2 separate regions of the Homo sapiens genome follow, and region 2 is linked to region 1. The links come from fine-mapping of genetic effects on gene expression. A gene starts in region 1. The other region holds a variant in brackets. All regions are shown on one strand. Distances are between the middles of the regions.

Region 1 (5,389 bases):
ATCCCGTGGAAAAACTGTCTTCCATAAAACTGATCCCTGGTGCCAAAATGGTTGGGGACTGCTGTTCTAAGTGGTTCAGCTTGAAGGGTGCTTAAAGTGGGGAAGTGGTAAAAGAAGCACGTGGGGGCAGTTTGCTAAAGGCCCTGCAGGAATGCTAAGGAGTTTAGATTTTATCTCCTAGAAAAATGATCAGATCTGTGTTCTAGAAAAAACCTGTACCAACAAGCATACAAATGTATGCTCTTGGCTTTCAAGCTTACAATTTAGTTAAAGGGGGTAAAAAATAAGTAATATAATGTTTAAGTTATAAAAGATTAAAAATAAAAAAATGCAGTGAGTGTTCAGAAACTAGAGAAATCTTAACCAACTGAGGATGATCAGAAAAAATATTTATGAAAGAGATTGTTCACATTTGAACTGGGGCTTGAATTTATGACGGGGGTGTAGATATATATAGAAAAAGGCGAGGAAGGACCGTCAAAGTAGAAGAAACAGCACGCCCAACACTCAGCAGGTGGACAGGAGCAACATGGGTGAAGGGCATGGACTTTACAGCTCAGATGGTTGACCAAGGAGAAGACAAGAAAGTCCTTGATCTAAGTTAAGTAATTTGAGCTTTATTCAATAGGGACATTCGAGGAGAGTGTGATCAGAGATGTGATTCCAGATGGTTTACCTGGGAACAATATCTGTGATGCCTCATTGAGAAGAGAGAAGCCTGGGCCAGCAACGATGTTTCAGGCATAAGAGGAAGATCTGAGTGTGGATGTTGACAGTGAGTCTGACAGGAGGGAATGAATGAAGGAGACACCATTGAAGGAGGATCAACAGGGCCTGGCTCGACTCATGGAATGAGGGAGGCAGGGACTTTAAGGGTGTCAAAGATGATGTGAATGTTTCCAGCTTGTGACTCAAATAATAGCAGTTCTAATAACAGGAACAGGGAAGGCATGAAGAAGAGCTCTTTGGAGAGAAAAGCATTTCTTAAGATTTGGATATGATGACTTTATGCTTCAGATAAAGTATCTGAAAGGCCCAGAATGTATTGGCAATGCTGGGCTGGGAGTTTTGGAAAGAGAATGGATTTTGTGATGAACTTTTAAAAGCTATTGTTAACTCCTGTATGGGACATTTTTCAGGCAGAACTACAACGATTGCAGCAAGCATTTATGGATTCACTAGTATCTGACACTCATTAAATACAATTGTTAAAGTATGGGTCTTCATCTCTCAGAATGATAATCTCTCTAGGGTAAGAATTTCCTTGGATGCTATGAGATCAATGAAATCTAATGCTATCTTTTTCTTTCAACAAATATTGACCAAGTGCCTGTGATGATAGACCTATTGCTATGTGCTGGGGGCCCAGAGATGAACAAAACCCAGCTTGTCTCAGAATAGTTCGATCTGGAGGAGGAGAGTAAAATGTAAATACCTAACAATTCTATAATATCCTAAGTGTTATAAGAGAGTCATTATAAATTGCTGTAAAAACACAGAAAAGGATGTGGTTTTTAAAAATATCCTATATTATCATTGTAGGTCTTTGTACTTTTTAATTTAAAAATGCTTATTAAGTACCTACTAAGTCCCAGACATTGTGCTTGTCACTTGGGATGCAGATATAAATAACATGTAGTCTTCTGAGAGCTCCTACTGATGAATGTATTAAATGTTATTCATACTTATCTTACAGGTATGGCTGAAAACATTGATTCTTGAGGTGTTGCTTGGAAAAAAAAACAGCCAGTTGTAACTAGTGAAGCTTTCAGAGGGTGATTTTTCTATAGTGTGGGCACTCACAGCGTGTCCAGCACACTGCTTGGTGCTGTTGAATAGTTAATTCTCTAATTACTGCAGGTCTGCATGCCAGTGTGGACTGGCTGCCATGAATACCAGGAAAGGTTTCAACCAAATAAAACATCCAGGACTTGGAAGTACTCTTGTTCATAATCTCTTCTTTGTCTAATTCTTGCATAATGTAACAAAGTTTTTATGAAAAGGCTGTGCCTCATAAATGTTGGAAATTTTAATATTATAATAGTCAGAAACAAAAAGTTAGGAAAAACTAAGAAATAATGTTAGCTATTTTCTATGAGCGTTTAAAAATTGAGAAACTGACTAAGAATATCTGTAGATTGAATTGCTCATCACTTTAAGTTAACATAGTAGCCAAAATGGCAAGTTTCTATTACGTTAAAGTATATCATGAAGCCTATGTACAATCATGTAAGGTTATATTTAGCTATATGTGAACATCAATTTGCCCATACACCCATTAACATAGTTGAACAATGACAGCACCAAAAAATTAACAGGTAATATAGTACTTACTATGTCCAGGTGCTATTCAGACAATAAATAATTCAATCATCTTATTTAGCATATGAGCTAGGAACCACGATCATCCCCATTTTACAGGTAAGGAAAGGAATAGTGAGGCTTACTAGCCCAAGGTCACACTGCTAATAAGTGGCAGAGGCAGAATTTGGACCCAGCATTCGGGCTCTGAAAACAATAATGATAACTCCCATATTATACTGCCACACAGATAAGAGGAAAAGATTAGCTATGTTTGTTATTGAACTCGGAACATCTTATAGCAGGGTCTGTTTGTATTAATTGGGATGCTTACACACAGAAATGAGTTAGGGAAAAATATTCTGAAAGTGCCTAATCCTGGTTTGGAAAAAAAAAATTACCTTTTAAATGCTTATTATCTAACACCTTGTAACCTTAAAGTAACTTTCAAGAGTGACTCAGTTTGTGCTTAACCAAAATATTACTAATAATGAAACAGCAAAACCTTGGAAGTTTCCATTGCCAATCATAAGATGTAAGGCACACCCCGATAATTTTATTTACTTTGCAGAGCATAAGGTGGAATAACATGTTCTTTTAAACGTAGAGTTTAAACATTGAGTTGCATCATTGTGAGGAAAACCACTTAGTATTTTATAGTGAGGTGACTTTACAAGTAAAGATCTTCAAGAAGATTTTTATGTGATTTAAAAAATCAGCTTAGATGCTTGGAATTTGGATTGTTGCATTCTTGTTCTTTGGCACATCAAGAGGTAAGATTCATAATTTATAATAAGTTCTTTAAAAATAATGAGTATACTTACATCTAAAATGTAATTGACATGAACTTATTCTTTAGAAATTACTATTGCTAATTTCATTCTTAAGTAGTTTATTGTTTTTATGAATATGTTTAAAATATTGGCTGCTTATATTTCTTTGTATTTATTTATTTTTTCACTTAACATAAAATTATCAATGGAAAATGCATCACTTAATACTGAATGAGTCTTATGAACATAAAGAAGCATCTATTTCCAACAATATAAAAGAGTTGCCGGACAGTCTTGTGTTGGGCTGCTAGCTCTGCCACTTACTAGTCTTATGGGCTTAGACATTGAAGTCTCAATTTCTTCATTTCTAAGAAGGGTACATAGTAATAAATGAGAAAATATATACAAATTTCCAAATTCTGTAGCTGACTCATAGTAGATACTCAATAATTGAATGAATTAACTAATTATTAATGTCAGTTGGAATGTCCATTTTTTTTCCACTTCAGTCACAGTTTTCTGGAGGGCTGTTAGTCTGTGGACATTTCTTAAACATTAACTCAGTATTCATTGACATGTTTGCTCTTTATACTATGGACTCCTTAGACATTACAATGTAAGGAGTTAGTGATTTTGGCTACTTTTACCATCCATGTTTAATATTGTGCCTATAAGCAAACATTAAAATTAGTTGATTTATTTTAACCAAACTAGAATCAAATAATTTTAATGTTGAAAGAGATCAACCCCTTTGTTGTAAAGTATCACGTAGTTGGTTGAGATAGTATGGTGGTAAGAAGACAGTCGTCACATCTAACATTCAGTTCAACCACCGGTTTGAATTCTGAATCTTCTTGGGTTTTAGTCCTCGTTCTGCTGCTTGGTAGTTGCTTAACTTTAAACAAGTACTTAACCTTTCTAAGCCCAGATGATTGATCTGTAGAAACAGGACAGTAACCAAAATAAAATTATAGGGTTGTGCCAATTAAATAAGATGCAAGTTGACCATCTCGAATCCAAAAATCTAAAATCTAAACTTCTCCAAAATCTGAAACATTTTAAGCACTAACATGATGCCACAAGCAGAATATTTCACATACAAATACTTAAAACAAACTTTGTTTCATGCATAAAATTATTAAAATACTGTATAAAATTACCTTTAGCCTATGTGTATAAGGTATATATGAAACATAAATGAATTTTGTGTTAAGACTTGGACCCTGTCCCCAAGATATCTTATTGTGTATATGCAAACATTCCAAAACACAAAATCTGAAACACTTCTGGTCCCAAGCGTTTTGGATAAGGGATACTCAATCTGCAATTCATGTAAAATGCTTGGCATGGGATTTGGGACATATTAGTAGTGAGCAATCAATAAATGTTCGCTCTTATTTACACAGATGAAGAAAACAAAACACAGAGAGATTCGTTGTGTAACATCTTGGCGCTAGCTTGTGGAATTGGCCAATCTTGACTTTCAGTTCAGTGTTTTTCAGTCCCTGGCCTCCAGCTCTTCTCTATTGGATAAAAAATGAAGGAGATAGGACTATCATTAGTTTTCATATTTCAAGAACTATATTCTATTTTGCATGATTCTCCTGCCCCAGGACAGTCCTAATTGAGTGCTGAAAGCAGTTAGACTGGTGAAGGCAGAATTAAGAAATAGGCAGTTTGCCCTGATCTGCTGAGATGATATTTAAAGCCATGACTACAGACAGGATCATCAAGGGAGTGACTGCAGGTAGAGAAGGAAGATGGAACTACTGAGTCCTAGGACACTTCCTCATTAAGAAATCAGGAAGATGAAGGCAAACTAGCAAACAAGACTGCCAAGAAGTACTCAGTGAAGTGGTAGGAAACCTAGGAGAGTCAGCATCCTAGAAGTCAATTTAAGATGAAAGAAATAACAGCATGTTTGTGTGAGGCTAGGAATGATCCAGCAGAGAGGAGGAAAGTTGGTAAAGCAGGAGAAAGAGAAGGGAGTAATGTTGTGCCTTACCCCTCAGTAGGTGAGAGAAGATGGAGTCTTAATAGGATGAAGGTTTGCCTTTGCGAGAAACAAAGACAGTTCATCTCTTGTGAACAGAGTGAAGGCAAAATAGAAGGGCAGATATCTGCAGGTAGCTGGATAGACACGCTGGGAGCTTGTAAAAGGTCTCTTCTCTTTGTTTCTGGTTTCCTATTGAAATAGGAAACAGGGTCATCAGCCAAGAGGTTTGGTGGGCATGAAGATGTTGGAGGTTTGAGAGGCAAGAAGAATGAAATAACCCAGGAGTCTGGGAAAATGAAGGGCCTAGGAAAATATGATA
Region 2 (5,389 bases), 28 kb after region 1:
GCTTAGAACACAGCTCTGGAGGGTGCAAGCCATGAGCCTTGGCAGTTTTCAAGTGGTGTTAAATCTGCAGATGCTCAGAGTGCAAGTGTGAAGGAAGCTTGGCAGCTTCCACCTAGATTTCAGAGGATGTATAGATAAGTCTGTGTGCCCAGGCAGAAGTCTGCTGCAGGGGCAGAGCCCCCACAGAGAAACTCTACTAAGGCAATGCCAAGAAGAAATGTGGGGTTGGAACCCCCACACAGAGTCCCCACTGGGGAACTGCCTAGTGGATCTGTGGGAAGGGGCTCCTGCCCTCCAGATCCCAGAATGTTAGATCCACTGGAAGATCCATGATTATAAAAACTGGCAGGCACTCAACTCCAACCCCAGAGAGCAGCATGTGGGTTGCACCCAGAGAAGCCACAGGGGCAGGGCTGCCCAAGGCCTTGGGATCCCACTCCTCACACCAGAATATGGAACATGGAGTCAAGGATTATGTTGGATCTTTAAGATTTAATGCCTGCCCTGCTGGGTTTCAGATTTGCATGGGGCCTATTACCTCTTTCTTTTGGCCAATTTCTCTTTTTTGGAATTGAACTGTTTACCCAATTCCTGTACCTCCCTTATGTCTTGGAAGTAAATAACTTGTTTTTTATTTTACAGGCTCATAGGTAAAAGGAACTTGGCCTTGAGTCTCAGATGAGAACTTTGACTTTGAGCTTTGAGTTGATGCTAGAATGATTAATATGTTGGGGGAAGAGTAAGAAGGGATGATTGTATTTTGCAATGTGAAACGGACATGAGGTGTAGGGGGGCCAGGAGTGGAATGATATGGTTTGGATGTGTGTCCCCTCCAAATCTCATATTGAAATGTCATCCCCAATTTGGAAATGGGGCTTAGTGGGAGGTATTAGATCATGGGGATGAATCTCTCATGAATGGTTTAGTGCCACCCCCTTGGTGATGAGTGAGTACTTGCTCGGTTAGTTCACACAAGATCTGATTGTAAAGAGCACGGCCCCTCCCCACTTGCCTTTTACTCCTGCTCTCACTCTGTGATACACCAGCTCCTCCTTTGCCTTCCCCGATGATTCTAAGCTCCCTGAGGCCTCACCAGAAGCAGATGCCAGCACTATTTAAGTTCTGGGATACATGTGCAGAATGTGCAGGTTTTTTACATAGGTATAGACGTGCCGTGATGGTTTGCTGCACCTATCAACCCATCATCTAGGTTTTAAGCCCTGCATTCATTAGGTATTTGTCTTAATGCTCTCCCTCCCCTTGTCCCCCACCCCCAACAGGCCGCACGATGTGTTGTTCCCTCCCTGTGTCCATGTGTTCTCATTGTTCAACTCCCACTTACGAGTGAGAACATTCAGTGTTTGGTTTTCTGTTCTGGTGTTAGTTTGCTGAGAATGATGGCTTCCAGCTTCATCTGTGTCCCTGCAAAGGACATGATCTCATTCTTTTTTTTTTGAGATTTGAGACGGAGTTTCGCTCTGTTGCCCAGGCTGGAGTGCAGTGGCCTGATCTCAGCTCACTGCAACCTCTGCCTTCTGGGTTCAAGTGATTCTCCTGCTTCAGCTTACTGAGTAGCTGGGATTACAGGCACACACCACCACGACTGGCTAATTTTTCTATTTTTTTAGTAGAGATGGGTTTCACTATGTTGGTCAGGCTGGTCTCGAACTCCTGACCTCGTGATCTGCCCGCCTCAGCCTCCCAAAGTGCTGGGATTACAGGCGTGAGCCCCCACGCCTGGCAGATGTACCATTTTTTAATAATGAGAGTGTTTTAAACCTACTCTTAGCAATTTTGAAATATACAATGCATTACTATTAATGCTAAGCAATAAATCTCAGAAACTTATTCCTCCTGTGTAACTGAAGCTTTGTACCCACTAATCAATATCTCCCTATTCACCACACCCCAATCTCAGTCCCTGATAACTACTATTATCCTCTACTTACGTAGTTTGACTTTTTAAAATTCCACATATTAAGTGAGGTCATGCAGTGTTTGTCTTTCTATGCCTGGCTTCTTTCACTTAGCATGTCTTCCATGTTGTCACAAATGACAGAATTTCCTTTTTCATTGTGCAGGTATAACACATTTTCTTTATCCATTAATTCATTGATGGACACAGGTTGATTCCATATTTCGGCTATTGAGAATAATGCTGCAATGAAATGGAAGTGCAAATATCTCTTCTTCAGCATAATGATTTTGATACCTTTGCATATATTCCCAGAAGTGAGATTGATAGATCATATAGTAATTCTATTTTTAGTTTTTCAAGGCACCTCCATATTATTCTCCATAGTGGCTATACCTATTTACGTTCCCTCCACAGTGTTCAAGTTTTCCCTTTTCTCCAAATCTTTGACAGCTCTTGTTTAATTTATAAGAGACATTCTAACAGATGTGAGGTGATATCTCATTGTGATGTTGATTTGCATTTCTCTAATGATTAAGGATGTTCAACATTTTTTCATAAATCTGTTGGCCATTTGTATGTCTTCTTTTGATAACTATTCAAATCCTTTGCCCATTTTCAATTGGATCATTTGCTTTCTTGATATTGAGTTATTTGAGTTTGTGAATATTCTTAAAAGCTCCTGTTTTAAAACCAAAGTTATCCCATACATTTTCTAGTGTTGCCTTAACCTGGGATACAGACACAGGCAAGGTGGATAACTGTAGGAATGAGCTGCCTTTGATGCATGTTGTGAGCATGCTGAAAGGATTTGGGCCTCAGGAAGGATCAGCATGGAGCTAGAAGCCACGAATATAGTTGTTAGGGCTGTTCTCCTGTTTCCAAGGACCACAGGCCAGCCCCTTAGCACAAGGAGGAGAGCTCCTATAGAAGGCATTCTTCCAAGCTCATCTGTTCTCCTTCAGTTGGATAAGGATGTAGGCAGAGGTGTCACTTTGTGACTTTACCAGTCCCTGTCTTATGTGCAAAAGGGAGAACCATGTTGATCCTTTTTTTTTTCTATTTTTAAAGCATATTTAAGCTATTCCACCGCTGTTTTTAAAATACTTATTCTGTTAAACAATTCTTTCAGAAAAAATTTGAATATTCCCCTTCTAAAGTGCACTTGATTGGCCACAGCTTGGGAGCACACCTGGCTGGGGAAGCTG[G/GA]GTCAAGGATACCAGGCCTTGGAAGAATAACTGGTAAGCATGCCCTGCAGTTGGGCCTTGAGTGTGTTTAAATATTGTTTACACACACTACCAAGTATCTGAACACCAAGTAATACTGCAGAAGAAAATATAAGATACTACAAAATGTGATTCCAATGAAATAAAACGTGAACGTGTTTTCAGAGCAGAAATGTGCAGATTCGCTTCAAGGGGGTTCATTGCAGCGTTGTCTGTGGTGACAAAGTAAGAGAAACTATGTGTTCCCTCACCCGCAATTGAATGGTTGAAGCAATTATAACACATTCCATCCTTTGGGATTTCATACCAGTAATGCAAAGAGTGAGGTTTACCTAGACGTAGGAGTAGAATGGTGGTTATGAGAGGCTGGGAAGGGAAGAAGAGAGGGGAGGCTAAAGAGAAGTTGGTTAACAGGTACAAAAATCCATAGCTAGAAGGAGTACATTCTAGTACATGATACAGAAATTACAGTTAACAATAATTTATTACATGTTTCAAAATAGCTAGAAGAGAAGGACTGTAATGTTCCCAACACGAAGAAAAGATGAATGATTATGGCGATGGATGTCCCAATTACCCTGATTTGATCATTACACATTGTATACATGTCTCAAAATACCACATGTGCCCCCAAAATATGGACAACTATTATATATCAATTTTTAAAAGTTATTTTTAAAAAGAATGAGTTTGAATCCCACTGATTGTCCTGGACGTTCCTGACACACTTGGACTGCAGCTTACTCAGTTGTTACCATTTTTAATATTATCCCTGGATATACCGTTAAGTCTAAAAATAAGTTGCGGAGCAAAGTATATAGCATGAATTGGGTTTGGGGGTATAATAATTAATCATGTCTCCTCCCCACATTCTGTTTTCCAAACCAATTGTGTGAGATGGATGAAGGTCAAAGCAACAGCTCCTTTACCAACAGGCGGGGCTGGCCTCTCCCTCTGCATCCCCCCACCAACAGCCAGTAAGCAAGCCCCACGTCTCCTTCATCTGCCTTTTCCCTGTCCATCCTCTGGTCATTGTCCTGGCTCAGTCCCTCATCTCTTGCCTGCATTTTGGCCTTGGTCCCCGCTGGTGCCCCAGCCTAGTCTTCTACAAATACTGCCAGGCTTATCTTTCCAGGTGCAGGCCATGCCACTCCACTGCTCCAAATCTCTCAGGGTGTCTCCTTGTGTGAAGCCTCTTAGCTTGTCACGTAAACTTGTCATGTTTCATCACAGTTTTTCATGCTCTGTGCCTTTGCACGTGCTGTTGTCCCTCTTGCTGAGCATTCACTGTCCATTTGTCAAGATTCATCTCAAATGTTTCCTCCTCAGGCAGGAATTAATTCTCTGTGCTTCTCATACCCTTTGACATGTGCCTCTTTTGTGTTTGAAAACACAAATATTATATCACATGGTCTTATAATTATGGATGAGCCTGTTATTTTTAACAGAAAGCCTCCTTACTGCATTGACTCCAGGCTTGGCCACAGAAGCGTATTTTCTCTTTGTTAAACTGCTGTGCTCTGTGTGCATGTGTGTGTACGTGCTCGCTCTCTCTCTCACACACACACACATACATGCACACTTTAAATTCAAATCTCAATTTAGAACACAGTTTTTAAAAAAATACCTAGAAGTCCAAATTGGGATTATTTTGTCTCTGCAATCTGTTGATATAACAGGCTTATTCCTGCTATAAGTCATCTCTCTTCTCCTAACTCTCTGCTCCTAAATCCTCCTCACTCACCTCCACCACCACCACCACCATTCTTATTTAGAATAATAAAAACTGAACTTTTTCACTGAAGTCATTATGTGACCCTTTGTGGTCAATTTTCAAGCCCAGAAAAAAGAAGGAATGAGTTCCTCTTTTGAAGATGGAACCTCATGGGGCCTCACAGCCTCAGGCAGGCTGAGTGAAGCAGAACACATAACTGCATTTACAATTCATACTGGGTTATGATCAATTCAAAGAGATTTTGTTTTTATTAAGTTTTTTCAAAAATCAGATACTATTTAACTCTAGTTTTTCCCATCAGGTGAATTATCCTGCTGGGTAAATAGAAAACAGATTTTTAAAGGTTTTCTGAATGTCCAAAGAATTAATATTATGTGGATGTTTTAATCTATATTCCTCTGAGAAATTAGTTTTTGGGCAATCATGTTCCTTGAGTAATAGAAGAACTGAGACCTCACAAACAGATTTTAGCTGTATAATTAACCACTTAAAAACAAAATTAATATGATAAAC

Which allele goes with the higher level. Positions count from the first base shown, and alleles are read on the strand shown. Sizes are in standard deviations (SD) of each study's normalised expression.
For the expression in sun-exposed skin of the gene that starts at base 2,860 in region 1, allele GA in region 2 goes with a lower level than allele G (moderate effect, 0.41 SD a copy in GTEx).

What was found.
Region 2: its variant is fine-mapped to the expression of PNLIPRP3 in sun-exposed skin (GTEx, PIP above 0.99).

The regions. Positions count from the first base shown.
Region 1 is chr10:116,424,988-116,430,376 of GRCh38, forward strand. It overlaps PNLIPRP3 (pancreatic lipase related protein 3), which reads left to right and starts at 2,860. Exons shown (of 12, transcript NM_001011709.3): 1 at 2,860-3,074. The coding sequence starts at 3,026.
Region 2 is chr10:116,452,675-116,458,063 of GRCh38, forward strand. It overlaps PNLIPRP3 (pancreatic lipase related protein 3), which reads left to right. Exons shown (of 12, transcript NM_001011709.3): 5 at 3,048-3,156. Among named protein-coding and RNA genes, the nearest start is that of PNLIPRP3, 28 kb to the left of the region's middle. RefSeq lists an enhancer at 1-230. The variant G/GA (reference allele first, on the strand shown) is at 3,124.